Regions from separate parts of the Homo sapiens genome. Here regions 1, 3 and 4 are each linked to region 2. The links come from fine-mapping of genetic effects on gene expression. A gene starts in region 2. Each other region holds a variant in brackets. All regions are shown on one strand. Distances are from middle to middle. Region 1 overlaps THRAP3 (thyroid hormone receptor associated protein 3). Region 2 holds the start of EVA1B (eva-1 homolog B). Region 3 overlaps THRAP3 (thyroid hormone receptor associated protein 3). Region 4 overlaps AGO4 (argonaute RISC component 4).

Region 1 (8,000 bases), 28 kb before region 2:
CCATGGCCTTATACTGGAGGTTGTAATAAAAGACTTTGTATCAGACATTAAACTCACCTTGTTAAATTCTGCTGCTAATGCACCTTTAATACAAAATTTACAGTAACATCCTTCAGACTCTAAGAGAGCTATAGGCATTTATATTTGAGAGTGTACAGGACATGCTTTGGGACAACAGTCTCTCACATTGGGCCTGAGGAAAACAGCTCTCTTGACATAGATTAACTCCTATATTCTTGGAAGCTGGCAAATGTTGCCTGAAATTACTGTGAGTTTCTGTAGGTAGAGTAAATGCTAGTTTCTTTTCTTGTCTTTTTTTTTTTTTTTTTTGAGATGGAGTGTTGCTCTGCCACCCAGGCTGGAGTGCAGTGATGCAATCTCGGCTCACTGCAACCTCTGCCTCCCAGGTTCAAGCAATTCTCATGCCTTAGCCTCCCAAGTACCTGGGATTACAAACGTGTGCCACCATGCCCAGCTGATTTTTGTATTTTTAGTAGAGACAGGGTTTCACCATGTTGGCCAGTCTGGTCTTGAACTCTCAACCTCAGGTGACCTGCCCGCCTCAGCCTCCCAAAGTGCTGGGATTACAGGCGTGAGCCACTGCGCCCAGCCTAATGCTAGTTTCTTTAGGTAAGCCTGTATATTAATATTTCATGGTAGTTTAATCATGGGTAGTTGGATTCTTCTGGAAGAATTTGCCTGGGGGCTAGAGGCGGGAGCTTGTAGGATTATCTCACAGAATTTTAAAGCCCAGCAGGTTTAAAGACTATTACATTTGGTTGTGGGAGTCAGTTCAGTGGATAGGGACTAGAAACAAAGTTGGCCTTATCTTTGAGGCTATGGGTGAGTCCATCTTTCTGTGTGTAGCAAAACCAGGAGAGAACAAAAACCTCTAACTTCTGTTACACTGTGGGAACCTGGGACTGTGTGTGTGTGTGTGTGTGTGTGTGTGTGTGTGTGTGTCTGCCTATGGGAGAGTATAAGTATATAAGAGTAAAAGTAATAGATACATAAGTCATGAAACGTAAGGAAAAATAATGCCTGTGAATCTATTAGCCAACTTAAGAGCTAGAATATTACCAGTATCATATTCACACAATGGAATACTATATCGTTTTGTATTTTCAATTTTAGGAGAATAGACATTTCCCCCAGTACATTCAGAAAACATGGTTTGGCTCATGATGAAATGAAAAGTCCCCGGGAACCTGGCTACAAGGTGAACTGTTGATTTGATCAGTAATTCCAACAAAATGAGTGCGTTGGGCATGAACTTGACAGAAATGTGTTTGTTTAAATTACTCTCTACTTAAGTTTGTGTTTTTCTTTTAAGGATGGGCATAATTCTAAAAATGAACTACAAAGGGTTAATTTTTATTAAATGTATCAACAACCTTTGTGAAGTGGTTAGAATATGGTAAATGACCCCAAAGTCTATTGAGGTGAGCTTGAGAAAAAAAAGAGAGGAGTTTTGGAACAAGTGCCCATGATGAGAGAAGAAACTTTTTGTGATATTTTTCTGCTTGTAAGTATTATCAAATCAACTGTATACATGCACTATTTCCAACCATGATTTCAGAAAGACATGCATGTCAGAGAAGAGTGAAATATTCATGTCTTAACTTAAGTAGACTGTTTTTAAACAGCTGGTCCAGTTTTTTTTCCTAACATTGTACCATATCTATCATCTGTCAATTACTGTTACTTTAAAGCTAAAGATTACTTTGATGGCCCAGCTACATTTGCAATGATGTGCACGTAAACACTGTTAAGAGGTTAAAGCTTGTATACAATCTGTTACTGTGAAATAACTAAATTGGGCTTTAAAAAAATCTTAGTATTTATTGATCTTCATTCACATATACAGTTGAAATTTAAAATAACAGATGGTTATTCCAATGCTGCTGAAACCTTTTCTAAAAAATACTTGTTTTGTTGGTTGAATGTGATGAGAGGCGCTTCTGGGCAGTCTCTCTTCTCTCCCACCCGTCTTTCCTCCTCCGAGTACCCCTTCTCCAGCTTTGTACTAGCCATGTAAAACCCAAGGTTTTCTTTAAAACATCAGAAGAGATCTCGTCCTCCATGCCCCAAAAAAGCCAACTCATTGGAGGTGTTACCCCTGGGAGCAGTGTTGCATTTGTCTTTTTGTCTTTTTTTGCTCTTTGGAGGATGCAGAGGCCCAGTTCCCTCTGTTAGGAAACAAATTAAGTGATAAAACAATAAACGGCCGGGCAAGGTGGCTCAAGCCTGTAATCCCAGCACTTTGGGAGGCCGAGGTGGGTGGATCACCTGAGGTCGAGAGTTTGACACCAGCCTGACCTACATGGTGAAACCCCGTCTCTACTAAAAATACAAAATTAGCCGGGTGTGGTAGTGCATGCCTGTAATCCCAGCTACCTGGGAGGCTGAGGCAGGAGAATCACTTGAACCTGGGAGGTGGAGGTTGCAATGAGCCAAGATCCCGCCATTGTACTCCAGCCAGGGCAACAAGAGTGAAACTCTGTCTCAAAAAAAAAAAAGGAAAAAAAAAAAAAAGAATAAACCTAGTTTCTGCCACTCCTGCTGTTAAACTTTTTTTTTTAAAAGTTTAGTAGTTCACATATGTAAACTATTAATGCAGAATGAACTGCTCATTTCTTCCTCCCTGAGTTACCTCCATGAGACAAATCCTAGTGTGGGATGTCCCGGAACTACCATGCACCTTTGCCCCACCGAGTTTCCCAAGAATTGTTGAAAGCCTTTGCTGCAGTGGTCTGAGCAGGTGTGCTGTTGCTGCTGCAAAACATACCTTCATAGCTGAACTGCTTAGGAAGCCAGCAGAGAAGTTTTTTCCTTCCTTCCTTCCTTCCTTCCTTCCTTCCCTCCTCCCTTCCTTCCTCCCTCCCTTCCTTCTTCCCTCCCTTCCTCCCTTTCTCCCTGTTTCTTTGGTTTCTTTCCCCCTTCCCCTTCCTTTCCCTTTCCTTTCACCTGATAATACCAGTTTATGAATTCCCCATAGTTTTTGATATTCCCTTTCTAGAGAAATTTGTCAGTATAACTCAGGGTTTTGAAGGCTGCTTAAGTCTTCCATTGTCTCTCTTTGGACTCAGTACTCAGAGATAATTCCAAGTGGAGGATAAGCCATGGGTGGATACTACAGTATAGGTAGGGGAAGGTGAGCTTTTCTACTCTTAGTGGTGGCTAATCCTGAGCCAGCCCAACCACCTACTTTTCCAGAGCTAATTTTAGCCTTCTCAACTTTTTTTTTTTTTTTTTTTTTTTTTTTTTTTTTTTTTGAGAGATAGTCTTGTTCTATTGGCCAGGATGGAGTGCAGTGGTGCGATCTCAGCTCACTGCAACCTCCACCTCCTGGGTTTAAGCGATTCTTCTGCTTTAGCCTCCCTAGTAGCTGGGATTACAGGCACACGCCACCTTGCT[C/T]GGCTGATTTTTGTATTTTTAGTAGAGAACAGGGTTTTGGTTGTTGCCCATGCTGGTCTTGAACTCCTGAGCTCAAGTGATCCGCCTGCCTCGGCCTCCCAAAGTTCTGGGATTACAGGCGTGAGCCACTGCACCTGGCCAGCCTTCTCAACTTCTAAACTAGCCAGAGTCATTACTGGGCCAGAAAGGAAACAAAGTGAGATCAATGCATAGCATTTTCAGAAGGCCAGCATCATTGTTTTGGAGGACTGGCGTGGGTTCTGTGAGGGATCCTTATGGAGTAACTTCTGTGGGACATCCTGCATCCCTTCCAAGCTTGGGTGAGATGCCTCACATTTCCCAGTGCTTCCTCTGCACCCCTCCATTGGAGTAAAAACCACAGTTTGTGGGATGGTTGAGTTGACAGCTCTGAATCCCAGAAACCTTAATTTTGGCTTATCTTTTGATAGGCTGAGGGAAAATACAAAGATGATCCTGTTGATCTCCGCCTTGATATTGAACGTCGTAAAAAACATAAGGAGAGAGATCTTAAACGAGGTAAATCGAGAGAATCAGTGGATTCCCGAGACTCCAGTCACTCAAGGGAAAGGTCAGCTGAAAAAACAGAGAAAACTCATAAAGGATCAAAGAAACAGAAGTACGTAAGCCCCTGTTACCCCTTCCAGACTCTTAAGTTTCTTGTCTGTCCCCTTTGGGCTATACACCAGAACTTTCAAATCAGAGGAGTTTAGGGTTAGTAATTATAGCAACCTGTTTCTTCTTTTAATCCATGTAAATGTCAGGTAGGGTCCCTAGTTTGAAAACAATTTCTACATCAAAATAGTGTGATCTTTGTCCAAAGAAGGCTTCATGAGAGAAGTTAATCTGTTAAATTGACCACAGGGATGGTGTGGAGAATCATTAGAATCATTTGGGAATTCCTTTTGCAGTTTTAGATGTACCTTTTTCATCACACATTTTCATGGGGAAGTTGTATTTTAGAAATGGCCCAAAGTCATTGTCAAGTAATAACACTGTTTAGTCAAAGAAACAGGGTGGAACTAGATAGTACATGATTGTTGATCTTAAGTGCCTTTTAAACTAGTTTTACAGACAGTTCCAAGAGAGGTGTTCCAGGTACTCCTTAAACAAAGGTGGCATTGTTGAACTTTGTGTGGCAACATTCATGCCTATGTCCTGATGTTTCTGTTTACGTTTTTGAATGTTCCATGACTTTTTAATCATGTGTCACGAAAAGTAGCACAGTTGAAGCCCCATACCTTCTGGTAAGAAGCAACACTTCTGCTGATTTTGAACTTTAGCTGGCAAGCATTTTTTTTTTTTTTTTTTTTTTGAGATGGAGTCTTGCTCTGTTGCCTAGGCTAGAGTGCAGTGGCGCAATCTCAGCTCACTGCAACCTCCGCCTCGCGGGTTCAAGCAATTCTCCTGCCTCAGCCTCCTGAGTAGCTGGGATTACAGGTGCCCACTACCACGCCCAGCTAATTTTTTGTATTTAGAGATGGAGTTTCACCATGTTGGCCAGTCTGGTCTTGAACTCCCGACCTCATGATTCACCCACCTCGGCCTCCCAAAGTGCTAGGATTACAGGCATGAGCCACCATGCCTGGCCGCGTTTTTATATCAGTTTTTCATAACCCCTTGAGATAAATTGAACAGTTGGTGTGATATCCATTTTGCCCATTTGAAAGATAAGCCAAGCTTAGAATAATGTGCCTTACGATCACAAGTATTGGCCGGGTGTAGTGGCTCATGCCTGTAATCCCAGCACTTTGGGAGGCCGAGGCAGGAAGATCACGTGGTCAGGAGTTCAAGACCAGCCTGGCCAATATCGTGAAACCCTGTCTCTACTGAAAAAAAAAAAAAATTAGCCGGGCATGGTGGCGTGCGCCTGTAATCCCAGCTACTCGGGAGGCTAAGGCAGGAGAATCGCTTGAACCTGGGAGGAGGAGGTTGCACTGAGCCGAGTTCTCAGCACTGCATTCCAGCCTAGGCGACAGAGTGAGACTTCATCTCAAAAAAAAAAAAAAAAAAAAATCACAAGTATCAGCTGACCTCAAACACGGATCTTTTGTTATACTTTGTCTCCCATTCCAATGTGTTACTTATGCATTAGGAGCCTTGGCAGCTTTTGGGGCCGCCCATAGATAAAGAACCTGCGAATCCTCAGCAGGGAATGGAAGTGGTAGTACAGTAGTGCCTGGGCCGCCACTTAGAAGTGGAACATGAACCCCTCAAGCATTTCAGAGTTGAGTCTGAATTACTAACTCTGATTTCCTCTCCCTGGAACACATGCCTACCTCTGACTTGCGATGTGACTTTGAACAAGTCCCCTGCAAACCCCGGTATTCTGTGATTTATTTATTTTTATTTTTTATTTTTTTGGACGATCTTGCTCTGTCACCCAGGCTGGAGTGCAGTGGCACGATCATAGCTCACGGCATCCTTGAACTCCTGGGTTCAAGTGATCCTCCTGCTTCAGCCTTCCAACTAGGCTGAGCTAGGAGTACAGGTATGCACCATGATGCCCGGCTAATTTTTAAAAATTTTTTGTAGAGACGAGGGCTTGCTATGTTTCCCATGCTGGTCTTGAACTCTTGGCCTCAAGTGATTCCCACCCACCTCCTTGGCCTCCCAAAGCATGGGATTACAGGCATGAGCTACCACACCTGGCCCGTTTTGAGACAGGGTCTTGCTGTGTCGCCCAGGCTGGAGCGCAGTGATGCAATCACTGGCCTACTGTGGCTTTGACCTCCTGGGCTCAAGTGATCTACCCATCTCAGCCTCACAGTCAGCTGGGACTACAGGTGTACACCATCATGCCTGGCTAATTTTGTATTTCTTGTAGAGTTGAGGTTTTGCCATGTTGCCCAGGATGGTCTAGAACTCCTGGGCTCAAGCAATCTGCCTGCCTTGGCCCTCTGAAGTGCTGGGATTACAGGCATGAGCCACTGTGCCCAGCCAGAACTTTTTTTATATAACTGAAGAATGACTTACCCAGGTGACACAGCTAATAAGAGACAATGCTGGCCGGATGCGGTGGCTCACGCCTGTAATCCCAGCACTTTGGGAGGCTGAGGTGGGTGGAGCATGAGGTCAGAAGATTGAGACCATCCTGGCCAACATGGTGAAACCCTGTCTCTACTAAAAATACAAAAATTAGCCGGGCATGGTGGTGGGTGCCTGTAATCCCCACTGCTCAGGAGGCTGAGGCGGGAGAATCGTTTAAACCCAGGAGGTGGAGGTTGCAGTGAGCCGAGATCGCACGACTGCACTCCAGCCTGGCGACAGAGTGAGACTCCATCTCAACAACAACAAAAAAAGACAATGCAAAGACTCAAATTTGAGGCCTTTTGAGAGTCTTTTTTTTTTGTTTTGTTTTGTTTTTGAGGTAGAGTCTCGCTCTGTCACCCAGGCTGGAGTGCAATGATATGATCTCGGCTCACTGCAACCTCTGCCTCCTGGGTTCAAGTGATTCTCCTGTCTCAGCCTCCTGAGTAGCTGGGTAGCTGGGATTACAGATGCTTTCCACCACACCCAGCTAATTTTTGTATTTTTAGTAGAGATGGGGTTTCGCCATGTTGGCCAGGCTGGTCTCGAACTCCTGACCTCAAGTGATCCAGCCGCCTTGGCCTCCCAAAGTGCTGGGATTACAGGAGAGAGCCACTACGCCCGGCCAGAGACTCTTATTTTTGAAAACCTCTTGAAATAGCACGGATGTTTAGTGGGGTCAGAGTTGAAGTTACATGAATCCTATCACAGTAACTTAGATTTCCCCTTTGTATGAATAAGTGTGTGTGGGTGAGGAGCAGGGAGCATGATGCCTTTCATAATGGAAGACTGAGGGAGGGAAGGACAATGATAGGTTACTGACATTTGGCTGGCTCTGCTACTCCTCCACTCCTGGGATCCTGGCCTTGCTGCCCCCTAGAGGTATTCAGTAACCTCCACTATCACATGGCAGGGCTGGTACTGACTTTAGTACATAGATAATGACTCATCGTATTAAGCTAATTTGCCCTAGTCTGTAATTTCCCCTAGATGAAGGAAAGGGAAGGGAAATAACTCTGGGAGAGTTGCGCCAGATCCTAGGCTTAGTCACACAACCTGTTTGAGCTCAGTGGGAGGTAATATGTGGAGTCGTGGTATAATTAGTCAGAGCTAGGTTAGAATCCAGACTCTGCTCGCTTCTCTCACCTGAGCCTCCTACCTGTAAAATGAGGGAAATAATACTGAGTTGTATTGTCCTTTACTGCATGCCAGCTATGTTGGTGTAAAGTGTTTAAACACAGTGTTTATTTAGAGAACCCTGTAAGACAGGTAGCATTCCTGTAAGAAATAAAAGTAATAGAACGCACTAACAGATGATAATATACAAAGCTATTTATCTGGCCCAGTACCAGATACTTTGGAGCTCTCAATATAGTGTTAATTTCCTTCTCCCTTATTAATTCATGCCTGTATCTTAGACTGAGCTCCTGGAGGCCATGGACTGTGTTTTGTTCCTGCTTCTATGTATGTCATATGTTTATCACAGACTCAGACATAGATGTGTCACTGAACATGACTGACAGAATTGAGAGGAA
Region 2 (8,142 bases):
GGGAGTGGCTTCCAAAGAGGAGGTGACCCTGAAAGAGGAATTGCCCCCTAAAGAGGAAGTGGCTCCAAAAGAGGAGGTGCCCCCCATAGAAAGAGCCTTTGCCCAAAAAACACGTCCTATCAAGCCGCCTCCAGACTCCCAAGAGACGCTCGCGCTCCCCTCGCTGGTCCCGCAAAACTACACGGAAAACAAGAATGAAGGAGTTGATGTAACGTCGCTGAGGGGCGAGGTGGAGTCTCTAAGGAGGGCGCTGGAGCTGATGGAGGTGCAGCTGGAGTGAGTGGGCAGTGGCGGGGGTTGTGGAAGGTAGGGTTCCCCCTAGCCCTCACCTGCGCAGCCCCTCACCTCCAGCCCTCACCTGCCCAGCCCCTCACCTCCGCCTCGGCCCGCAGGAGGAAGCTGACCGACATCTGGGAGGAGCTGAAGAGCGAGAAGGAGCAGCGCCGGCGGCTGGAGGTGAGGCGCGGGTCCCGGCGGGAGGGGGCTGACGGCGAGTGGCCCCCTGACAAAGTCTCCACCTCACTCCCGACCAGGTCCAGGTGATGCAGGGGACCCAGAAGTCCCAGACCCCGCGCGTCATCCACACGCAGACGCAGACCTACTGAGGGTGGGCCTGGGAAGGGACCGCGGCCTGACCTGGCTGGGGCCACCCACGTCCTTGCACACGACTTTGGGAAACGCGAGAAAGTAAACTCTGCCTAGCACGGCGCCACGCCGGTCTGGTCGCTGGGGGCGGGGCCTGCGCGGGGGCAGGGCCTGGGCCTCCGCATTCCTGACGGTCCCTCCCAGGCACATCTGGCCAACATGTGGCTCCCATTACCGTTCCCAAGGCCTGCGCGCGGCTATTTTTATCCACCGGATGGTGAGGGGCGGGGGAGGGTGTCTCCTTCGGACTCCAGCCGCGCACTGGAGAAATGGCGGGCAGGAGGGGCCCAGGCGGGGTCGGGCTCTTGACGCCCGGCCTAGATTCCGGAATCCAGCTGTGCGCCGGGGAGGAGCCGGGCGGGCCTTCTCGCCAGCTCGGACCCCTCCCAGCTGGCCTCCCTGTCCGCTCAGAGGGACTCCTGCCCTCTCGCTTGAACGCACCTCGGCGCAGACGTGAAGTCCACCGTCCAGCCCAAGCACGCATGCTTACACCGGGGCTAGCAGCACCTTAGCCTCGAGGTCAGGGTCCTGAGGCCTGGTGTGTGTGTCATTGCAGTGTATGAACCCAGGGCACTGTGGGGACAGGGCGACGTGTGTCCAGGCGTTTGCCGGTAAGGAATGCGTTTTGAATAAGGAATGCGCGCGCGCTTGCTCTGTGTGTGAGGCTGGGTGCAGGCCTGTGGGCTTCTGCTTTTCTGCTGGCTGTGAAGTGAATGCGGGCAGGTGTGCTGTATCGTCGGGTTGGTGGGTGGGGGTGGTGCAGCTAGGGTAAGGGAGTCAAGCTGGGCCTCAGTCCTGGGGCCCCTGCGTGGCAGGAGCCTGGGGGTCGCTGGGGGCAGGAGTAACAGAGGGAGAGACTGAGTCACTGAGAATGCAGCTTTCTTTCATTTGGTCACTTCACCTCTTCATCGACCCCAGAGAGGGAGTGGGGACCCTGCATGCTGCCCCCTCCCCGCCCCCGGGGTCTTCTGGCAGGACTGGGGAAGGGAGCCTCTCAGGGGGTGGCGGTCCACGCCCAGTAGCACCTGGGAGCTGTGGGGGCCGAGGCAGTCCGAAGGTGTGGGGTAGCTCTGAGCTCATGTGCAGGTCCGGTACCCCGAGCGCCTTGCAGCGGGAGCCGGGGCCCATCAGTAATAGTGCATGCGGCCCAGGGTGCCCGTGGCCGTGGGGCTGGGCCCCAGCGTGCCTGTGCCCAGCAGGTCCGGCTGCCCGGTGCGCCAGATCTCCCGCAGGATCCGTTCGCGCTCCTCCAGCCGCTGCGCCCGCTCCAGCTCCTCCGCCGACGTGAAGACGTTGACGTTGAGGGGCCCGTCCGGCTCTGCGGACAGCTCGGGGCCCGGCAGCGTGTCGTCGGGGCCCAGCCGAGTCACCGTGTCCTCCTCGTCCTCGTCGTCGTCCTCGGGCTCCAGGGTGCTGCTGCGGGGGTCCCGGCGCTGAGCCGGGCCCCGGGGCCGCGGGCGGGGCGCCCACGAGATGCTGATGACGAGCAGGCAGAGGGTGAGCAGCAGGCCGAAGCAGACGCCCAGCACGAAGTAGAGGCCGAAGCTCTCGGGGTTGGCTGCGGGGCACAGGGCGGGGGTCACGGAGAGGCCCGGACGGGTGGGGGTTGTCCCACTTCCGAAAGACCCCAGGTTCTAGGTGTGGGGGCGAGGCCTGTAACCCCTACTCGAAGGGCATTAGGGAACCGCCAGCGGGCAAGAGGGCGGGGAGCGGGGCGGAGGGGACGGACAAGGCGCTGGGGAGGGAAGGGGATGGTGGTCAGGGAAGGGTTCAGGCCCCCAGTCTTCCGGCGCCCGCCCTCACCGCGGATGTGCGCGTAGGCAGCCAGGCTGTTGCTGAGCAACTCCATGTCCCTTCGCGGGGCATCCATGCTGCTCTGGGGGGCAGCTCCCCTACCAGCCTGCGAGGTCAGCAAAGTCAGATCCTTCTCCCAGCCTGGAGCCCACCCCGACCCCTTCCGCGGGCAGCTCCTCTCCCGGGAGCCGCGGGCCCAGGTTCCACCCTGGAGAGAGCGCTTCCCTAACTTCGTGGCGGCCCGGGGCCCTGTCGGGGGGAACCCCTCTCCCGGGCGCGGACGCCCCTCCAGTCCTGGGAGCAGCGCCGGGGACCGCGGGAGGCCCCGCCCCCTGGTGAGGTCCCCAGCTGAGGCCCGGTTCCGCCGTCCCGGGGCGGGATGGAGGATAGGGACGCTGAGCCTCCACGCCCCAGGCGGGCTCCGGGAAGGGAAGCTGCCTCTCTCCTCGCCCGGCCGCCCCGCGGGGACCCACCGGCCCGGGGCCAGGCCCACTCACCGTCAGCGCCCCGCTTCCCGGCTGCCCGGCCCCAGCGCGTCCCGCGGCCGCATACACTGGGTCCGGCCGCCCCCGCCCGCTCGGGTCCCGCCGCCCCTCCGGCCCCGCTGGGCTCCCAGGCCGCGGCAGCACGGGCGGGACACGGACCGAGGGACCAGCCGGCGGAAAGTTTCCTCCGAGGAAAGAGGAGGGACGGGGCGGGGCGGGGCGGGCGGGGAGGCGGGGAGGAAAAGGGCTGGGAGAGGAAGGGGAGAGGAGCGGGCAGCCGGGAGGAGGGAGAGCCCGGCCCGCGGGCCGTCCGTCCCCCACAGGAAACCGCCGGGGAGGCCGCGGCAGGGACCCGCCCCCAGGCCACTAACAGCAACAACAGAGAGGCTGGAGCTCTGCCTGCGTGCGGGCCAAGGGCTAAACCTTGGACAGGTTCTTTCACTTACTCCGCCTGACAACCCTGCGACGTGATACCATTATCCCCACTTCGCAGATCAAATAAACGGAGTCTTGGAGAGATTGAATTGACTTTACCAAAACCGTCAGGATTTGAATCTGCTGCTCTCTGATCCTAAAGCCTGAGCTAGAAACCACCGCTCCCCCTCCTAGGAGGCCCCTTCCAGGCAAAGCTGCTTCTCTTCCCCAGACCCATGCTGGACTGGAAGGGAGGGGACTGTCCACCCCTCCTTCCAGGGCCCAGGCTTGAATGTGTCCCCTGGCCGAGCTCTGGTCTAGTCACGCAGGGTTAATGATTGTTGGACTCCAGCTTTGAGCCAGGGCCCGGCCAGCAGTCTCGCAGACCCCAGCGTGGGGCCTCTGTGCCTGCGAGCTCCTGCGCTCTTGTGCACCAAGCAGCTTGTGGCGGCTTGTGGCAGATCCCACCCCATCCCGTCCCCCACCCCAAGGCTAAACCTGCCTGTGCTCACACACGCATTTCCCACCTGGGCTTGTGCATGCAATGTGGTGTGTGATCAGTGTGTGTGGCGGGGGGCTTCCTTCTGCCCTGTCTCCACGGGGCCCCCCCATCATGGACCTCCCCTCCCTTGCTGGAGCTAGAATGAGGGGGAGGCCGCCTTGGCGGGAGCCTTAGAGAGGAGGAGGAAAGGGGGAGAGGAAATTGCAGACATAGCTGAAGGCGCTGCCTGAGGCCTGTGGGCCAGCGACCCTCTCCCTGTCCGGGCTGCAGACCCCTACTCCCCCAGTCCCGAGACTGGGTTCAAGTAGAGGGCAGATCTAGATGGGGGAGGACTAGGACTGACTCCTATGGGGATGGAAAAGGGACTCCTGGGTGTCTTTGTGACTGTTTAGTGTGTTCTGTGAATGTGCGGGCAGGTATTTTTGCCCACATCTGTATATTTGTCTATTAATGTGATGTATTTGAGTATTGTTGTGGGGGCGGGTATGTCTGTATATAAATCTGTGCAGCCACTAGTCAACAAATACTGTGTATGCCTAGCACTTCCTAGTCTAGTCCACAGCATCTGTGGGTTTAACCAACTTTGCATCAAAAATATTCAAAACCAAAATTGCATCTGTGCTGAACATGTACAGACTTTTTTTCTTATCATTATTTCCTAAACAATAGATATATTTAATTTTTTTTCTTTGAGACAGGGTCTCACTCTGTCACCCAGGCTGGAGTACAGAGGTGCTATCTCAGCTCATTCACAACCTTTACCTCCTGGGCTCAAGTGAGCCTCCCATCTCATTCTCCCAAGTAGCTGGGAGGGACCACAGGCGTGCACCACCATGCCTGGCTAATTTTTGTAGAGATGGGGTTTTGCCATGTTGCCCAGGCTGGTCTTGAACTCCTGGGCTCAAGTGATCCACCCACCTCAGCCTCCCAAAGTGCTGGGATTACAAGTGTGAGCCATCATGCCGGCCAATAGTGTATTTTCATAGCGGTTACATTATATTAGATATTATAAGTAATCAAGAGATGATTTAAAGTATACAGGAGGATGTGTATAGGTTAAATGCAAATACTGAACCAATTTATTTTACATCAAGGACTTGAGGATCCTTGGATTTTGGTGTCTATGGGAGGGAGGTCATGGAGCCAATCCCCTGAGAATACTGAGGGACAGTTTTTTTTTTGTTGTTTGTTTTTGTTTTTGAGACGGAGTCTCGCTCTGTCACCCAGGCTGGAGTGCAGTGGCGCGATCTCGGCTCACTGCAAGCTCTGCCTCCCAGGTTCATGCCATTCTCCTGCCTCAGCTTCCCAAGTAGCTGGGACTACAGGCGCCTGCCACCACGCCTGGCTAATTTTTTGTATTTTTAGTAGAGACCGGGTTTCACCATGTTAGCCAGGATGGTCTCGATCTGCTGACCTCGTGATCCACCTGCCTTGACCTCCCAAAGTGCAGGGATTACGGGCGTGAGCCACCGCGCCCAGCCCTGAGGAATAGTTTTAATGGGGATTTAACAATAAACAGAACAGACACAAATCCTTGCCCTCATGGAGCTGACACTAAATTGGAGAAACAATAGAAGATAATCTCAGATGCTTCTAAGTGCTGGGGGGCATGACAGGATAGGGTAATGCGATGGACAACACCTGGGAGTGGCTCTCACAGGGACATCCACAGTGAGACCTGAATCCTAAGGAGGAGGCAGCTGTGCCAGGATCTGGGGAGAGTGTCTGGGCAGGAGTAAGAACATGCTTGGGATACCTCCCTCCAAGGGAAGAAAGCCACGCAGATGGTGTGTGGGTGCAGGGGAGAGTGGCAGGGGCTGCCCGTGCAGGGACTCGATGGCCTTGTTGATGAGCTTTTTCTTTCTTTCTTTCTTTTTTTTTTTTTTGAGACGGAGTTTCACTCTTGTTGCCCAGGCTGGAGTACAAAGGCGCGATCTCTGCTCACTGCAACCTCTGTCTCCCGGATTCGAGTGATTCTCCTGCCTCAGCCTCCCGAGTAGCTGGGATTACAGGCATGCACAACCACACCCTGCTAATTTTGTATTTTTAGTAGAGATGGGGTTTCTCCATGTTGGTCAGGCTGGTCTCGAACTTCTGACCTCAGGTGATCTGCCCACCTTGGCCTCCAAAGTGCTGGAATTACAGGTGTGAGCCACCGTGCCCGGCCAGGAGCTTGGTTTTTAATGTAAGTGTGGTGGGGAGCTCCTGGAGCGTTGAGCAGGGGAGTGTCATGGCCCTGTGACACATTTTGGAAAGATCCCTGTGGTGGCTCAGTGTAGGGTGGGCCACTGTGGGCAAGAAGGGGAGCAGGGAGGGTGGTGAGTAGGCTGGCAGCTGTCCAAGCCAGTGAGGGCGGGGCCGGTGGAGAGGCGAGAGGGCTCAGACTCAGGTGGTGTTCTGAAGGGAGTTCCTGCACTGGACTTGAATGTGAGGGAGAGAGGAGTTTAGAACACTTTCATACTGGGCTGGGGCACCTGAGGAAAGCCCATGTGGGGAAGCAGGTTTGGGGGTAGTCAGTTTCACTGTAGATAGGTTAGACTTGAAATGTCCATTAGATATCCAGGTGCAGGTGTTGGCAATGCAAGTAGAACCCCCAGGAATCTGGCTGAAAATGATATTTGAGAGTCCTTACCACATAAGATGGATTTACCACCCCAGAAGTGGATGAGACCGAACATCTGGGGTAAGGGGGCAGAGAGAGAAGGGTCTGAAGCTCGAGCCCATTGAGGGGTCTCCTGGAGGTGAAGTCAGCAAGGAGAACCAGGCCAGAACAGGGATGTGATCAGCCATGTGTGATTGGGCTGAGAGGTGAAGATGAGGCCAGAATTTGCCCACTGCCTTGGCCGAGATTTGAAGACCATCAGCAATATTGAGTTTCTGTGGGTTGTATTCCTGTTTCTTCAAGGGGTGTATGTCAGTGACTGTTTGCACAGGTAGCTTATTTATGTGCAGCATTGCTGGGAGTGCATGAGCATGTTTAATGCCTGCCATCCACGGGAATATCGGTGTGTGCTACAGTGTGCTTGTATGACTACGTGTGTTGTGTGCCTCAGTGCCTCAGTTCATGTGGCACAGACCTGTGTCTGTGAGAGTCCACATGTGTGCTCCTCTATGTGCAGTCTAAAATTTTGGATCTGTTTCTGTCAAGCTGTTTCCATGCACCTCTGTGCTACGCAGCTCTCTGTATCTCTGCCTGCAGGCAAAAGTATGTTTGTGTCTGGGTTGGTATGTGACATATGTGTTTGGAGTGGGTCAGGTATGACTCAGCCCTAGTGGAGCAGGATGAGGGTTGAGATGATGGTTGCTGGTTGCTTCAGAGAGAGGGACGCACATTAACCAGAGTGCTGTCTTCTCCAGGGGCTTGCCGTGGCCAAGCCAGGCCAGGTGGGAGAAGCGGCAGCCTTGCCCTGGAGGGTTTTGAGAAGCACTGCTCCTGGAGGCCCTGGGGAAGGTCCCTGAAACCTTTGGCCAATGTGGCTGTCCCCATGGTCCACATGCCCTCCCCACCCCCTGCCTAGCTGCTTGACTGCCTGCTGCTCCCCAGCCCACCAGCCTGTCCGTGGGTCAGCCCAGCCACCCGCTTCGGATCTCTGCACGTGTGTCACCTGCTGTTCTGGCCCTCATCCCAACTATCCACCTGCCCATCTCCTCCCTACCTCCTCGCTGCCTATCTGCCCAGGACTTATCTGCTGTCTGCTCACCTGCCTGCTTGTTGACTGCTTCTCTGCCCTCCTATCTGCCTGTGAGACTAGAGATTTGTCACCTTGGAAAGCACGGAGAGTACTGCTAAGATGAAACACAGGAAGGACAGGCCTTGATGGAAGGTTGGGGGGCCGAGAGATCCAGAGCCTATGGGAGGGGACTTGTGAGTGCTGGCATATTCAGGACCCAGTGCAAACCCAAGCACAGCTCTGCTCCCGGCCCCAGTGGCCAAACTGAAGGCTTGCCCTGGCTATTCTGCCGTTGACATGGGCCTCACCCTACCACGGGGATAGGTCTTGGATGGAGGGAAGAGGGAGACTCACCGGGGGCCTCCTGAGTCCTTTGAGTGTCCCCATGACCCCAGCACCTGGGACAGCTGCTGGAAAGAGGGTACTGGCAAAAATTTGCTAAATGGACAATCATAGGCCCAGTGTGGTGGCTCACGTCTGTAATCCCAGCACTTTGGGAGGCCGAGGTGTGCAGATCACTGAAGTCCAGGAGTTTGAGACCAGCCTGGGCAACATGGCGAAACCCCATTTCTACAGAAAACTACAAAAATTAGCTGGACACGGTAGCACACACCTATAGTTCCTGCTACTC
Region 3 (8,114 bases), 64 kb before region 2:
TGGGCATTATCTACTAATTTCTTCTATTTGTGACCCATTAAAATCTGTTCTCCACGCAGCAGCGAGCATGTATCATTGCAGTTTGTGGTATTTTGAAACATAATTATGCTCCTATTTTATGCTCTAAACACTCCAGTGGCTGCCCTCATTACCCAGAGGAAAACCAAAGTCCTTACTTTGATTGCAAGGCCCTGTCCATTCAGCTGTGTTTCTGACCTGATCTACCAACAGCTCATTGGTAACCGTTTGCATTGCAGACATTCTTTTTTTTTGAGACAAGAGTTTCGCTATTGTTGTCCAGGCTGGAGTGCAGTGGTGCGATCTCGGCTCACCACAACCTCTGCCTCCCAGGTTCAAGTGATTCTCCTGCCTCAGCCTCCTGAGTAGCTGGGATTACAGGCACCAGCCACCTCGCCAGGCTAATTTTTTGTGTTTTTAGTAAAGACGGGGTTTCTCCATGTTGGTCAGGCTGGTCTTGAACTCCCGACCTCAGGTGATCTGCCCGCCTCGGCCTCCCAAAGTGGTGGGATTACAGGTGTGAGCCACCGCGCTTGGCCAACATTGCAGACATTCTTATTTTTGTCTCTTCCTCAGACAGTCAGGCATGTTTCCTCCCCAGGGTCTTTGCATTTGCTGTTTCCTCAGATAAGGCCCAGTATACTCTTTTTCTTCCGTCTCTGCTCAGCTGTCTCATGAGAGAGGCCTTCCCTTAATGCGTGATATAAAATTGTATAACTTTTACTCCTCCAGGTGCCCTCATCTGCTCACTAGAATGTCAGTTCCAGGCATGAAGGGACTTTTAAATTATTGAACCTCCAGTGTTTAGAATAGTGCCTGGCATGTAGTCAGTACTTAATAAATTATTTGTTGAATAAGTGGACAATTAGTAATGTGTAGAAGGGAAGAGGGTCTATTGTGGAGTCTCCTTGCTAATACACTGCTGTTTGGCCAAAGGAGGTTCAGGAGATAGAGGCTGACAAGTATGCCTGTGGCTGGCCAGATGACATGCAGGACAGGCTAGGCAGGAGGAGGGCAACTGTGGTGGCAGGGGGTGACTCAGGGTTTCAGGTGTCTCTTCGCTGTCACAGAGTAACTAAAGGCCAGAGCCTCAGATTTGCTTATTCACTCATCGCAACAATGGGGAATTGAAGACTTGTTGGAATGATAAAATTCTTGCCAATATCCAAGAAGAGGTTAATTAATAGGAAATATGATGGAGTAATAAAATGGGAGATTTATGTGTGTGTACTTTTGCCATCTGGTTAGAATTAGAGGGAAAGATGGATGTATTGGAATAGATTGTGTTTTTTTGTTGTTTTGAGACAGAGTCTCGCTCTGTCACCCACGCTGGAGTGCAATGGCACGATCTCGGCACACTGCAACCTCTGCTTCCCGAGTTCAAGGGATTCTCCTGCCTCAGCCTCCCGAATAGCTGGGATTACAGCCATGTGCCACCATGCCCGGCTACTTTTTGTATTTTTAGTAGAGACATGGTTTCACCATGTTGTCCAGGCTGGTCTTGAACTCTGGACCTCGTGATCCGCCCGCCTCGGCCTCCCAAAGTGCTGGGATTACAGGCATGAGCCACCACGCCCGGCTTGGAATAGGTTGTTTTTTAAATTCAACATGTTACAGCATAAGAGCAGTTTGCAGTCCTGTAGCAGACATGGGATTTCCCTCACTAGCTAGGCAGAGCTGACTGATGTGAGCCCTCTGTGCCTCTGGAGTGAGGAATCAGGGGAAGAAGTTTTGGCTGATGTAACCTAGGCTGAATTAGAAGAATACATAGCGAGAAGACATGAAAAAGTATTTTGAGTGAGTTTTTTAAAGTGCTATATTTGTACTTACATTAATAAAGAAACACATACCGACATTGTTATTTGGTAAAGGATCTGAATACTAAGCCTCATCTGGATAAAACAGTATTATCCTGTTAGTAATTTTTTTTTTTCTTGAGGCGAAGTCTCACTCTGTCCCCCAGGCTGGAGTACAGTGGCGCGATCTCGGCTCACCGCAAGCTCCACCTCCTGGGTTCACGCCACTCTCCCACCTCAGCCTCCTGAGTAGCTGAGACTACAGGTGCCTGCTGCCACGCCTGGCTAATTTTGTTTTTGTATTTTTACTAGAGACGGGATTCCACCATATTAGCCAGGATGATCTCGATCTCCTGACCTCGTGATCCGCCCGCCTTGGCCTCCCAAAGTGCTGGGATTATAGGCGTGAGCCACTGCCCCTGTAATAAGAATAACAACAAAGTTTTGATAAGGCAGGAGTGAGGACATCTAATTACCTACATGAGCTTGCTGGTCTTGGAACTTGTTTTTCCTGTTTGTTTTGGAAAACGCTGGACATAGCTTTGATGTATGACCATGTTCATAGATCTGGGAATAGACAACTGGAGCAGAAGGGAATTTTTGTGCTTTTATGGGTAGGTACGGAGAGTTACTTTACCTTGAAATGCATTTGTTAAATTCATTTTAATATACTTCTGTTCATTGCTTTCTTATTTTAAACATCTGATTTTTGTCAGGTTCACCAGGTTGAGTTTTGTGGAGCTTGTGAATTAGTCTTGCATAATGAAAACCTTAGCACCTGAAATATTGCCAGTGAAAGTATCAGGTTACAGTAAGGAAGGCTTTTGCTTTCCATACTGTAGGAGGTTAGATGAATGAAAACCTGTCAGACAGAGGCAGACCATCTCATACTTTGAGAGAAAAGCTTGGGTCCTTTTGGAGTAAAGCTGAGGGCTAAAGTAGGGTTTGTGTTTATAGATTTTGAGCATCAGTAACAGAATCTGCATTTGGGTAGCCATTTTATCACTACTTATTTTCTCTCATTTCAGAAGTGTATGCTGACTTGTAAAGTGAAGAAGCCAGTGGTGCTGCGGGTGTTCTTTTGGGGTAGTGTCTGGGATCCAGTACGAGTTGAATCATTGTTCAAATAAGGTAAAAGCATGGTGGTAAAAGAAACTAATAACTTCACTAATTTGTAAAACCAATCTTACGTTAAGAATTGATTATTTCGAGACCAGCCTATGCAACATGGTGAGATCCTGTCTCTACAAAAAATAAAAAAATTTAACCAGG[C/A]CTGGTGATACACATCTGTGGTCCCAGCTACTTGGGAGGCTGAGGCAGAAGGATAGCTTGAGCTCAGTAGTTGGAGACTGCAGTGAACCATGTTCATGCCACTGCACTCCAGCCTGGGTGACAGCAAGACCCTGTCTCAAAAAAAAAAAAAAGAAAAGAAAAAGAATTGATTATCCAGATGATTCGTTAATGGAAGTTCTGGGTTCTTATGAAACAGTATTCGTTTGAAAAAGGCTGTCGGTAAACTTGACATCTGTAATCATTAATATTTTGGGAAGCAGTCCCTTTTCATGCTTATGTTACTTGGATATATACTTGTTTTAATTAAAATTGGGGGCCAGGCGTGGTGGCTCCTGACTGTAATCCCAGCACTTTGGGAGGCCAAGGCAGGTGATCACTTGAGGTCAAGAGTTCGAGACCAGCCTGGCCAACATAGTGAAACCCCGTCTCTACTAAAAATACAAAAATTAGCCAGGCATGGTGGCAGGCACCTGTAATCCCAGCTACTTGGGAGGCTGAGGCAGGAGAATCACTTCAATGCAGAAGGTAGAGGTTACAGTGAGCCGAGATCTTGCCACTGCCCTCCAGCCTGGGCAACAGAGCAAGACCTTGTCTCAGAAAAACAAAAACAAACAAAAGCTGTATATATTTGCAAAAACACTATAGTAGACATACCAGACCATCAGCTCCCTAGGGCTCTTTATGAAAAACAGCAGTCCTTCCCCACTCCCCTTCCCAGCCCCTTAGAAGCAGTCATTTTCAACTCTCCAGTTCCTTTTGGTATATCTCTCTAAATAATAAGCCTCTTTTGCTTTACAGTGTTTGTTATTATTTATTAACTTCACTCCTTAAATAGTGGTCGTTTTTGGTAGGCTTACCTGACCACCTCACATGCCAACATTAATTGTCACTCTGGGGCCAGGCACCTGGCTCACGCCTGTAATCTCAGCACTTTGGGAGGCCGAGGCGGGCGGATCACAAGGTCAGGAGATCGAGACCATCCTGGCTAACACGGTGAAACCCCATCTCTACTAAAAATACAAAAAATTAGCCGGGCGTGGTGGTGGGCGCCTGTAGTCCCAGCTACTCTGGAGGCTGAGGCAGGAGAATGGTGTGAACCCAGGAGGCGGAGCTTGCAGTGAGCTGAGATCGCACCACTGCACTCTAGCCTGGGCTACAGAGCAAGACTACGTCTCAAAAAAAAAAAAAAAAAAGGCACTCTGGTTATAATATAATTTTAGTCATGGCAGTATCATGGTTTACAACATTATTATGATTACGTAGCGCTTATTCACAGCCCAGTCATTTTACATGTTGTGTTTACTTTTCCTTTTTTGTACAACTATTTGTTTTCTGTTTTTAATAATCTTTTTGTCTATTTTGCTTAGTTTCTATGTCTTTATCAGTAATTTCTCCCTAAACTCTAACCATAAGTGTAAATCTTCCACAATACATTTAAGCATTTTGGCTATATTATAAATTTTATCTTGGGCTAAGCGCAGTAGCTCACACCTGTAAGCGAAGCACTTTGGGAGGCCGAGGAGGGCAGATCACTTGAGGCCAGGAGTTCGAGACCAGCTGGCCAACATGGTAAAACCCCATCTCTACTAAAAATACAAAAATTAGGCCGGGTGCGGTGGCTCACGCCTGTAATCCCAGCACTTTGGGAGGCCAAGGCGGGCAGATCACGAGGTCAGGAGATCGAGACCATCCTGGCTAACACGGTGAAACCCCATCTCTACTAAAAATACAAAAAAACTAGCCAGGCACGGTGGTGGGCGCCTGTAGTCCCAGCTACTCGGGAGACTGAGGCAGGAGAATGGCGTGAACCCGGGAGGCGGAGCTTGCAGTGAGCTGAGATCGCGCCATTGCAATCCAGGCTGGGCGACAGAGCGAGACTCCATCTCAAAAAAAGTAAAAATAAAATAAAAAATTAGAGCCATTTCTGTAAGCAGTTCATATGCTATTCCAAAAGGAAATCCCAGAGAGACGAACTACACTGATCACATGTATCTGGACTAAGTTCTGGTTGAGTGTGTGGATCTACCTGAGGTGGAGTTGGTGTCTCTAGATAGCTTCGAGTAGTATTTTAAATAATTTTAAGTGGAAGCAACCGGTCGGGTTCTCCTTGATTTCTTTTGTAAACTTAGATGATTAGTATGATCCAAAATGGTAGTAGATCTTTAAATCATTTTTGGTCTCTTACGTAGAGTTGTGTTTGTATTTAAGACATCTCCGCTGCTCCCCCAAACTCATGTGGAGAGTTACTGCAACAGGAAAGGCTTAGTGGGTAGAGACTAGAAATGGCAAGTATAAATGACAAATCTAAAAGTGACTGGACAGTACTAGATTGGGTTCTCAATTTGAAGATATAATCATCGTTGTTCTCAAGGACAGTGCTGCTCAAAAGAAGAATGTGAGCCACATGTCATTTAATACATTTTAGTAGTCACATTTAAAAAAACAGATGAAATAAATTTGAACGATATGTTTTATATAATTCAATATATCCAGTACATTCTTATTTCAACATATAAGTGATATAAAGAATGGTGAGATATTTTACTTTCTGTTTATACCAAGCCTTAGAAATCCCATGTTTATTTTATACCTGTAGCTCATCTCAGTTCAGATCAGCCACATTTCACGTGCTGAGTCTACATATGTATTGGATGGTACAGTTCTAAGAGTTCATACTTCTGAAGGAACAGATAAACTAGTATGATTAAGTTAATGAATGATGGCCTGCCACATTCCAAACATAATACAAAACAGTGATATAGTAATATAAAACAAAATAAATCTAACACACACGTTTTTTTCCTCCTCTAAACCTCCATGTGATCATCTTTGGGAAGATGATTTGATCTTAAAAAGACCATTGTCTGTAAAAGCTGTCAAACAGCTTATTTCTCCTACTGTAGTTCTATCCAGGCTTTATGTAGAACTCTTTGTAAACAGTGGATGTCTGTATATCAGTATGGGGGTGATCTGCAAAGAATGTCCATGGCCCACTGGCTCTGAATCCCATTCTCAGTTTCTTCAATTAGAATCTTGATGGATGGATATTTTTTTAAAGTTCTGTAGGTGATTACAGTATTTATCAGTGTTTAGCCCAAGGCTTTAATAGTAATGCTTCTATTTTATTTTATTTTATTTTATTTATTTATTATTATTATTTTTTTTGAGATGAAGTCTTGCTCTGTCTCCCAGGCTGGAGTGCAGTGGCGCGATCTCGGCTCACTACAAGTCCACCTCCCGGGGTCACGCCATTCTCCTGCCTCAGCCTGCCAAGTAGCTGGGACTACAGGCGCCCGCCACCAGGGCCGGCTAATTTTTTTTTTTTTTTTTTTTTTTTGTATTTTCAGTAGAGATGGGGTTTCACTGTGTTAGCCAGGATGGTCTCTATCTCCTGACCTCGTGATCTGCCCACCTTGGCCTCCCAAAGTGTTGGGATTACAGGCGTGAGCCACTGCACCCGGCCTATTTTATTTATTTTTTGGAGGCTCTGTCGCCAAGGCTGGAGTGCAGTGGCTTGATCACGGCTCACTGCAACCTTGACCTCCCAGGCTCAGGTGATCCTCCTGCTTCGGCCTCCTGAGTAGCTGAGACTATAGGCACAAGCCACCATGCCCAGTTAATTTTTGTATTTCTTGTAGAGATGAGGTCTTACTATGTTGCCCAGGCTGGTCTCAAACTCTTGGGCTCAAGTGATCCACCCGCCTTGGCCTCTCAAAGTGCTAGGATTTCAGGGGTGAGCTACTGCACCTGGACAATAATTCCATTTTTAAAAATAGTTAAGTGTCATGATTGGCTGCTTAATTTAGCTTAGAAAAGATTTATCATAATGAGAGCTGGAAGGAAACCACAGGTCGTTAGTTAATATAGATTATAGTGTCTTTATTAAGTTAGGAAAGCTGAGAATTTCTCTTAAGAATTGAGAAGAAAATATTCCCCAATGGTAACATACTCATTTAAAATGGGGGCTAAAATTACTGTTACTGTCCCTGAGAGACATAGGAGAGGAGCCTCTGGGGTGAATTGAATATTTTTTTTAAGCCGCCAGCTGTGCTATTCATTTTGTTTCCCCAATGATTAATTGCATAGATGATCCTGAGCTTAATAGACACGCATTGACTGAATTCTCAGAGGAGTATCTCAAGTTGCTTACACTGGGGATGTTTTGATGAAAAAGTTCTAAGTGAACTTTTAGCTTGCTGTTGATTTTCCCTGCTAACATCCAGCATCGAAGAGATTTGTCTTCCAAAGGTGAATGTGACCTTTTGACTTAGGTCTTTCTTGATAATACGACCTTTCCTTCTAGCACACCTCTTCAGTGTGACACATGCTAATTTAGCCAGGAAAGATATAAAATGCTTTATTGCTGTGTAGGAAGATACCTGATCACTTATTACTTGTAGGCAGATTTGGTTTTTGTTTGTTTGTTTTTTTGAGACGGAGTCTCGCTCTGTCGCCCAGGCTGGAGTGCAGTGGCGCAGTCTCAGCTCATTGCAAGCTCTGCCTCCCAGGTTCACGCCATTCTCCTTCTTGTAGGCAGGTTTTAATAAATAGCAAGAAAATAGAATCAGTTATGAAATCTGTTTACTCCCAGGGAAGTTCCTAAATCTCTCCCTCCAACCACTCTGGTTCTGTGGCTAAACATAGTTTAAGGTGTTTACTCACTTGTGTGTCAGGCACTGTGTATGTGCTTCCTTAATTCTCCTGGCAGTCCTGTAAGGTGTAGGTCACATTTGGAAGATGGAGAGAGTTAAGTATTTTGTCCAGGAATGGGTGGCAGAGCCAAGATTGAACCCAGTTCGTTTTTGCTACCAAAGCCTCTACTTACTGCCGAACCTGGCCCAGTATTACAAAGTGACTTGTCCATTTAGGACTGAGCATTTTAGAATGATAATTTGCTTTAGTGTATTTCCTCACCTAACACCCACCTTAGTGCCCCTCTTGAAGTAACACTGTATTATGGACATATGGACAGCCCAGAATGGAACGTGGATTCTAGTCTCAGTTGCT
Region 4 (8,142 bases), 510 kb before region 2:
AGAAAAAAGAAAAAAAAAATTAACTTCCAGAATGAAAAAAGTTATAATTTTCAAACTAAATCTTCTAAGCTTATTAAAAGAAATTATCACTCACCATCTAACTTTTCTCTTTGCCAAGGAAAGGAGATACAAATAATATTTACTTTTTGCCACTTCTTAATCGTTTTTCTTTCAATTCTTCTGCCTCTGCCTCTTTGACATTCAAGTACTTCAGATAATAATACATATCACAAGATTATGAAGTATATTGGGAAGAAAAAGTGCTAGGCTAGGAGTTAGGAGATTTGGATTCTAGTTAGTATTTAAACTCAAAGTCGTATGTCCTTAAGCAAGTCATTTGATCCAAGTTTCTGTTTTCAAATTTCTATTATAAAGCTATATTTCTTACAACATTTTTTTTCTTTTTTTTTAAGACAAGTCTCATTCTGTCACCCTTGCTGGATTGCAGTGGCATGATCTCGGCTCACTGCAACCTGCACCTCCCAGGTTCAAGCTATTCCCCTGCCTCAGTCTCCCGAGTAGCTGGGATTACAGGTGCCCACCACCACACCTAGCTAATTTTTGTATTTTTAGTAGAGACGGTGTTTTGCCATGTTTGCCAGGCTGGTCTCAAACTTCTGACCTCAGGTGATCTGCCCGCTTCAGCCTTCCAAAGTGCTGGGATTACAGGCATGAGCCACTGTGCCTGGCCTCTTACAACTTTATGAATGATACAGTGATTGCTTAAGTGTATCTTGAAATATGCAGAGTTGACTTATTTTTATGATTTAATTGGGTTAATTCAGTATGTTTATCACCTCTCACATTATTTACTATTTACTTCTTACCTTGTTACCTTGTTTGTAATTGTCTTATCAATTGTATTGATAGGTCCTCTTGTACACTAGAAGTAGAACTCAACTCCAAGCAATAAGAATACTTTTAGTGGGCCGGGCGCAGTGGCTCACGCCTGTAATCCCAGCACTTTGGGAGGCCAAGGCAGGCAGATCACAAGGTCAGGAGATCAAGACCATCCTGGCTAAGATGGTGAAATCCTGTCTCTACTAAAAATACAAAAAATTAGCCGGGCATGGCAGCATGCGCCTGTAGTCCCAGCTGCTGGGGAGGCTGAGGCAGGAGAATGGCGTGAACCCGGGAGGCAGAGCTTGCAGTGAGCCAAGATTGTGCCACTGCACTCCAGCCTGGGTGACAGAGCGAGACTCCATCTCAAAAAAAAAAAAAAGAATACTTTTAGTATAAATTATGTGCTTTTGCTTCATTGAAAAATAATTGTCAGCTGGGCGTGGTGGCTCATGACTGTAATCCCAGCACTTTGGGAGGCCTAGGTGGGCAGATTGCTTGACCCCAGGAGTTCAAGACCAGCCTAGGCAACATGGCAAAACCCCAAACCTCGTCTCTACCAAAAATACAAAAATTAGCTGGGGTGGTATCTCAGTTACTCTGGAGGCTGAGGTGGGAGGATCAGTTGAGTCCAGGAGGTCGAGGCTGCAGTGAGCCATGATTGACCCACTGCACTCCAGCCTGGGCAACAGAGCAAGACCCTGGCTCAAAAAAAGAAAAAAAGAAGAAGAAGAAGAAGAGGAAGAGGAAGAAGGAAGAAGGAAGGAAGAAGGAAGAAGAAGAGAGACACTTTGGGAGGGCAAGGTGGGCGGATCACAAGGTCAGGAGTTTGAGACCAGCCTGGCCAATGTAGTGAAACCCCGTCTCTACTAAAAATACAAAAAATTAGCTGGGCATGGTGGCGGGTGCCTGTAATTCCAGCTACTTGGGAGGCTGAGGCAGGAGAATCTCTTGAACCCGGGAGGCGGAGGTTGCAGTAAGCCGAGATCGCACCACTGCCCTCCAGCCTGGGCAACAGTGTGAGACTCCATCTCAAAAAAAAAAAAGAGAGAGAAAGAGAAAGAAGAGAGAGAGAAAAAAGGAAGGAAGGAAGGAAAGAAGGAAGGACAGAAGGGAAGGAAGGAGAGAGAAAGAAAGATAATTATGATTTTTGTGTTTAGATTCTATCTGGGATTATTGATACTGTTCAGTTCAACATTTATTGAATTCTTATAACATGATGGCTGTTGCATTAGATATTGAGAAGATTAATAGGAGGTTCATTTCTTTTTTTTAAATTTTTTTTATTATACTTTAGGATACATATGCAGAATGTGCAGGTTTGTTACATATGTATACATGTGCCGTGTTGGTGTGCTGCACCCATTAACTCATCATTTACATTAGGTATATCTCCTAATGCTATCCCTCCCCCCTCCCCCTACCCCACAACAGGCCCCAGTGTGTGATGTTCCCCTTCCTGTGTCCAAGTGTTCTCATTGTTCAATTCCCATCTATGAGTGAGAACATGCGGTGTTTATAAGAGTTTGCAATCTAGTGAAGGAGACAGAGTAACTTAACAAGTGGTTTCTTATACTTGCTCTATGGGTTCCCCTATAGAGAGAGTCTTTTGAACACAGAGGACGGATCCTCTAGTCTGGGAGAATCAGGAAAGGCTTTCCAAGGAGGTTACATCTAAACCTAATTCTGAAGGATAAGTAGAATATAGTGGGAAAATGAATAATTAATATGTAAAATGATTTTTAATACTTTAAGTGTTAGAATATGGTGATCTGTAACCATAAATATCATAAAGTATTTGCTCTAATTTTCCTAAGTGATGTTGGAACAGAACAACTTCTTTTTGTTGTTGTTTTAGACTGAGTCTCCCTCTGTCGCCCAGGCTGGAGTGCAGTGACACAATCTCAGCTCACTGCAACCTCTGCCTCCCGGGTTCAAGCGATTCTCCTGCCTCAGCCTCCTGAGTAGCTGGGATTACAGGCATCCACCACCGTGCCCGGCTAATTTTTGTATTTTTAGTAGAGACGGGGTTTTACTATGCTGGCCAGGCTGGTCTCAAACTGCTGACCTCAGGTCATCTGCCTGCCTTGGCCTCCCGAAGTGCTGGGATTACAGGTGTGAGCCACCACGCCTGGCCCAGAACAACTTCTTGCTTCCAAGTTTTCTCTCCTTAGTGAAGTCTTTGTTCTCAGTGAAATGCCATTGCAGTAACAGAACCTGTTGTAACTTTCCATTGTAACCACAGCCCACTTTGCTCAGTGCCTATTCATAGCAGAAAAGATGTTCATTTTTTAGGCCAGTATCCACTTGATATTGTCATCAAAAAGGAGTAAGATTTTCTCTAAACGAGTGTCTCCCAGACTGTGCTCCACAAGATCTTTTTCTGCTGAGTATTAATAGATGTTCAAATCTTAGAGAGAGAGAGAGAGTTCTGTGGGGAAAAAAAACAGTTAGCTAAATGATGAGGTAAAGTTAACTAGGTTTATTTATTACATGACTTTTTAGATAATTTAATATGATAATATGCATTGAAATTTTAAGAGGGGAGAGAGTATGCAAGGTTTCTTTAACTTATAGAATCTTTTCTTTTTTGAAATAGTTTGGAAATATTACTCTATCTACATCAGGGTTTCTCAACCTCTTTCTCAGCACTATTGATATTTTGGACTGGGTAATTCTTTGTTGTGGGGGGCTATCTTATGCATTGTAGAATGCGTAGCTGTATCCTGGGTCCTTTCCACTAGATGCCAGCAGCACTTCTCAGGTTGTGACAACCAAAAATGTGTCCATATATTTGCCAAATGTTTCCTGGGGAACAAATTTGCCCCGGGTTGAGAACCACTGGTCTAGACTGTACATTCTTTGAAAGAAGGGGCTCTGTCTTCATTCTGAGTCCATAGTACAGGTTAGGCATGTTATAACTGAATAAATGAATAAATGTCTGTGGAATAAACTAGATCTTATGAGCAAGAAATCTCAGATTGTCCAGGTTCTAAAAATATCAAGTTATAAACGAGAAGGTCTAGCTTTATTGGTATTGTTTCACTATCGAAATTAGCAAATAAATTGATAAATAGAGCTGTGGTTTAATCTTCTCCTATATGTACAATTTATAATGATGCAGGCTAATTTGTGAGAGATTAGTAGGTCATTTCCAACTCTGGGGATGGTGGCTCCAGAGTTTAGAGATAGTTTTTAAAATGCATATAATTTTGTAAGTCTAGCTATAGAGCTTTACTAATGCTCATGCAAGATTTTATACTGTAGCCTATACTTGAGAGGAATTCATCATTCTAATTTTGATGTCCTTATGTTAAAAATAATAGCAACTTGGCAAAATATTTAGAAATCTAGAGAACCTTAGGTCGAAAGACACCCCAGATTCTTTATATTAGAGTACATACAGTGAATAATAAGATCTCAATAACTGTAGCCATCATCATCATCATCAAGAAGAAGAAGAATAAATAGCACAGCAGGCCAGGTGCGGTGGCTCACGCCTGTAATCCCAGCACTTTGGGAGGCTGAGGCAGGTGGATCACGAGGTCAGGAGTTCTAGACCAGCCTGGCCAATGTGGTGAAACCCTGTCTCTACTAAAAATACAAAAATTAGCCAGGCCTGGTGGCAGGCTCCTGTAATCCCAGCTACTGGAGAGGCTGAGGCAGGAGAATCGCTTGGAACTGGAAGGCAGAGGTTGCAGTGAGCCAAGATCAAGCCACTGCACTCCACCCTGGGTGAAAGAGCGAAACTCTGTCT[C/CA]AAAAAAAAAAAAAAAAAAAAAAAGAAAGAAAGAAAGAAAAAGAAAAAAAAAATAGCACAGCAAATGTCTTTCAATCTCTTTAGGACCTCCGGCTAGCCTGTTTCAGCCACCTCGTCGTCCTGGCCTTGGAACTGTTGGAAAACCAATTCGACTGTTAGCCAATCATTTTCAGGTTCAGATTCCTAAAATAGATGTGTATCACTATGATGTGGATATTAAGCCTGAAAAACGGCCTCGTAGAGTCAACAGGTAAGGATTAGAAACAGTGGATTTCTGTATATTTAAGTGCATATAATTTATTTATGTATCATATTGTTCTCTAAATTCATCCAACATGTAGGCTTTGTTATTCTCTAAGATGATAGGTTTCTTAATAGCAGGTTTGCTGTCTCATGCTTGGTTATCCTCTGTAGGCTCTAGCAAAGTGCTGGATATATTATTAGTCAATCAGTAAACACTTATTTAATTATGGAAAAGAAAGGTCGCTCTTTCATTGACCAAGGGTAGCAAAAATTTACTAAAATAGGTGAAGACATTAGTGTCTGTGGGAAATAGAACTATCTGGAAATTCAATTTTTATTATTATATGTTGGTTTTGGACATGAGAAAGATGTATATATATATATATATCAATACAGAAGATTACTTGCAGATTTTTTCTTGGGGGAAAAGAAAGAAAAGTCATCTTGGAGTACTGAGAAAACTAAGCACAGAGAGAAGCTCTAGTTATTTCTAGCATTATCTAAGAGTGGTCCTGATGAGATGATGTAAGTATTGTGGTCTGTATAGCAGGAATTTACCTGGTGTGAAGACAGCCCTGTAGCAAATATTCTTACAGTGTGCTGAGTATACATCCACTTTTGTTTTCTCTGTTTCTATGCAGTGACATTCAGGCAATATTTGATATTAAGATTCTTGCTTTTTTAAGATTGCTCTTTGCTGTCAAGTTAAATATTTTGTGCCGCTTGATATTTTTCTCATTATGGATCAAAATTTGGCTTTCTGGTGTAGTTCATTCTCTTGTAAACCCATTATTGGCTATTGTGTAACTGAGATCAATAGTAGTAGAAGTGGTGGTAATGGATAACATTGATCCATCCAACGAATATTTTATTGAATGTTTATTTTGTGCCAGGTATTGCCCTGTGCTCTGGGAATTCACCATGAACAAAACAGGCAAAAGTTTCTACCTTTGAGGAGCGTATATTCTAATGGGGAAGACCAACAATAAATGAAGAAGCAAACAAAACATGTATTTTATTAGTTGGTAATAAATGCAATAAAGAAAAAGAAAATAGAGATGGAAGATAGGAAATGGGGATAGGATGAGCACTGAGATTTATATATGAATGAATATATATGTTTATATATACATATACATGCATATGTAGATATACACACACGTATGTATATGTATATACGTATGCAAATACCTAGAGAAAGTCTCACTGAAAAGTGATATTTGACCTAGAGGAGGTGAGGGATATCTGCATGAAGAGTGTCCCAGGCAAAGTCAGAAGCTTGGTGAGTTCAAGAAACAGCAGGCCGGGCGTGATGGCTCATGCCTGTAATCCCAGCACTTTGGGAGGCTGAGGCGGGCAGATCACTTGAGGTCAGGAGTTCGAGACCAGCCTGGCCAACATGGTGAAACCCTGTCTCTATTAAAAATACAAAAATTAGCTGGGCATAGTGGCACGTGCCTGTAATCCCAGCTACTTGGGAGGCTGAGGCAGGAGAATCACTTGAATCTGGGAGACGGAGGTTGCAGTGAGTGGAGATCATGCCGCTGCATTCCAGCCTGGGCAACAGAGGGAGACTCTGTCTCAAAAAGAAAGAAAGAAAGAAAGAAAGAAAGAAAGAAAGGAAGAAAGGAAGGAAGGAAGGAAGGAAGGAAGGAAGGAAGGAAAGAAACAAACAGCAGATAATTCTGGATTGCTGGAGTGAGTGAGTGGGGGAGAGTGATAGGAGATGAGGTTGGAGAAATTTCAGAAGGCCTCTATCATGCAGAACTTGTAGGCATTCATAACACTTTGTCATTTATTCTGGTTAGGTGAGTTTTAAATACTAAACCCACAACGTGACTAAATAAATCTAAGACATGACAAACTTATATTTTTAATGGATTGCCCTGGATGCTGTGCTGAAATTAGACCCTAGCAGGTAAGGGTGAAAAGCATGGAAATTAATTAAGAGGCACTTGGAATGATTCAGGTGAAAAGTAATGGTGGTTTAGACTTGAGTAGTATAATTGATAGTGATGAGAAGTGGTCAGATCCTGCAAATATTTTCATACTACTGTCAATAAGATTTACTGATGGATTGAACATGTGGTGTGAAAGAAAGAAATTAGTCATGATCAATTCCAGGGTTTATGTCCTGAGCTACTGGAAAAAAAGGAGTTGTCATTTATCAGATGGGGAAAACTGCAAGAGAAGCAGAAGCAGGGAGTAGCAGATCAGGAGACCTGTGCGTTTTGGACATCAGGGTTGAGATGACTATTAGACATGCTAGTGGAGATCGGCTGTGGTAGCTCGTACCTGTAATCCCAGCACTTTAGGAGGCTGAGGTGGGAGGATTGCTTGAAGCCAGGAGTTTGCAGCAAGCTTAGGCAACATGGCTAGACTCTGTCTATATTAAAAAAAACAAAAGGCCGCGCGCGGTGGCTCACATCTTTGGATGTGAGCACTTTGGGAGGCCGAGGTGGGTGGATCACGAGGTCAGAAGATTGAGACCAGCCTGGCTAATATGGTGAAACCCTGTCTCTACTAATGATACAAAAATTAGCTGGTCATGGTATGGTGGTGTGTGCCTGTAGTCCCAGCTACTCGGGAGGCTGAGGCAGAAGAATCACTTGAACCCGGGAGACGGAGGTTGCAGTGAGCTGAGATCGTGCTACTGCACGTCAGCCTATTCGACAGAGTGAGACTCTGTCTCAAAAAAAAAAAAAAAAAATAGCACCACTGCACTCCAGCCCAGGTGACAGAGTGAGACTCTGAGTCTTAAAAAAAAAAAAAAAAGGAGGTTGAATACAGTATTAAGGTTGGATTCAGGGAACAGTTCGAGGCTGGAGACAAACATTTGAGAATCATGAGCTTATTGATGATAAAGCCATGAGACTGGATGAGATTATGTTGAAAGTGAGTGTGTGTGGAGAAAATAAGGCTCCTACACTGGGTCTTGAAGCACTCCAATATTTAAAGATTTAACTGAAAGATTAAAGGCGATGAGGAAGTATCAGCAGGAAGATTGGCATGGAGAGACCACTGGGATAGGAGAAAACCAAGGGAGTGGTGCTCTGGAGGCAAAGGAAGAAGATGTTTTAAGTTGGAAGGATGGATTATCTAATGTTCAAGGAGCATTGAATTTAGCTATATGGAGCCCACTGGAGGACGTCGATAACAGTAGTTTGGTAGAGAAAAAGCCTTACTTGAGAAAGTTCAAGGGAGAAAGGGGAAGAGGAATTACAGACAACTCCTTCAAGGGATTTTGATACAAAAGGGAGCACAGAAATAGAATGTTCAGACGGGGAGAAACTGAGATTAAG

What was found. PIP is the estimated chance that this variant, and not a neighbour inherited with it, causes the effect.
Region 1: its variant is fine-mapped to the expression of EVA1B in whole blood (INTERVAL, PIP above 0.99).
Region 3: its variant is fine-mapped to the expression of EVA1B in whole blood (INTERVAL, PIP above 0.99).
Region 4: its variant is fine-mapped to the expression of EVA1B in whole blood (INTERVAL, PIP above 0.99).

Annotation. Positions count from the first base shown.
Region 1 is chr1:36,292,717-36,300,716 of GRCh38, forward strand. It overlaps THRAP3 (thyroid hormone receptor associated protein 3), which reads left to right. Exons shown (of 12, transcript NM_005119.4): 8 at 1,135-1,219; 9 at 3,867-4,054. Among named protein-coding and RNA genes, the nearest start is that of SH3D21, 9.7 kb to the right of the region's middle. The variant C/T (reference allele first, on the strand shown) is at 3,418.
Region 2 is chr1:36,320,523-36,328,664 of GRCh38, forward strand. It overlaps EVA1B (eva-1 homolog B), which reads right to left and starts at 3,123. Exons shown (of 3, transcript NM_001304762.2): 1 at 2,937-3,123; 2 at 2,449-2,545; 3 at 1,508-2,203. The coding sequence starts at 2,515. The coding sequence ends at 1,773. SH3D21 (SH3 domain containing 21) reads left to right here. Exons shown (of 16, transcript NM_001162530.2): 14 at 1-276; 15 at 393-456; 16 at 534-825. The coding sequence ends at 605. RefSeq lists enhancers at 621-1,505, 2,392-3,276 and silencers at 2,321-2,510, 2,601-2,650, 2,711-3,070, 3,161-3,390.
Region 3 is chr1:36,256,540-36,264,653 of GRCh38, forward strand. THRAP3 (thyroid hormone receptor associated protein 3) reads left to right here. Exons shown (of 12, transcript NM_005119.4): 2 at 2,843-2,945. Among named protein-coding and RNA genes, the nearest start is that of THRAP3, 36 kb to the left of the region's middle. RefSeq lists silencers at 1,071-1,130, 4,160-4,316. The variant C/A (reference allele first, on the strand shown) is at 3,087.
Region 4 is chr1:35,812,201-35,820,342 of GRCh38, forward strand. AGO4 (argonaute RISC component 4) reads left to right here. Exons shown (of 18, transcript NM_017629.4): 2 at 4,682-4,847. Among named protein-coding and RNA genes, the nearest start is that of AGO4, 8.3 kb to the left of the region's middle. The variant C/CA (reference allele first, on the strand shown) is at 4,598.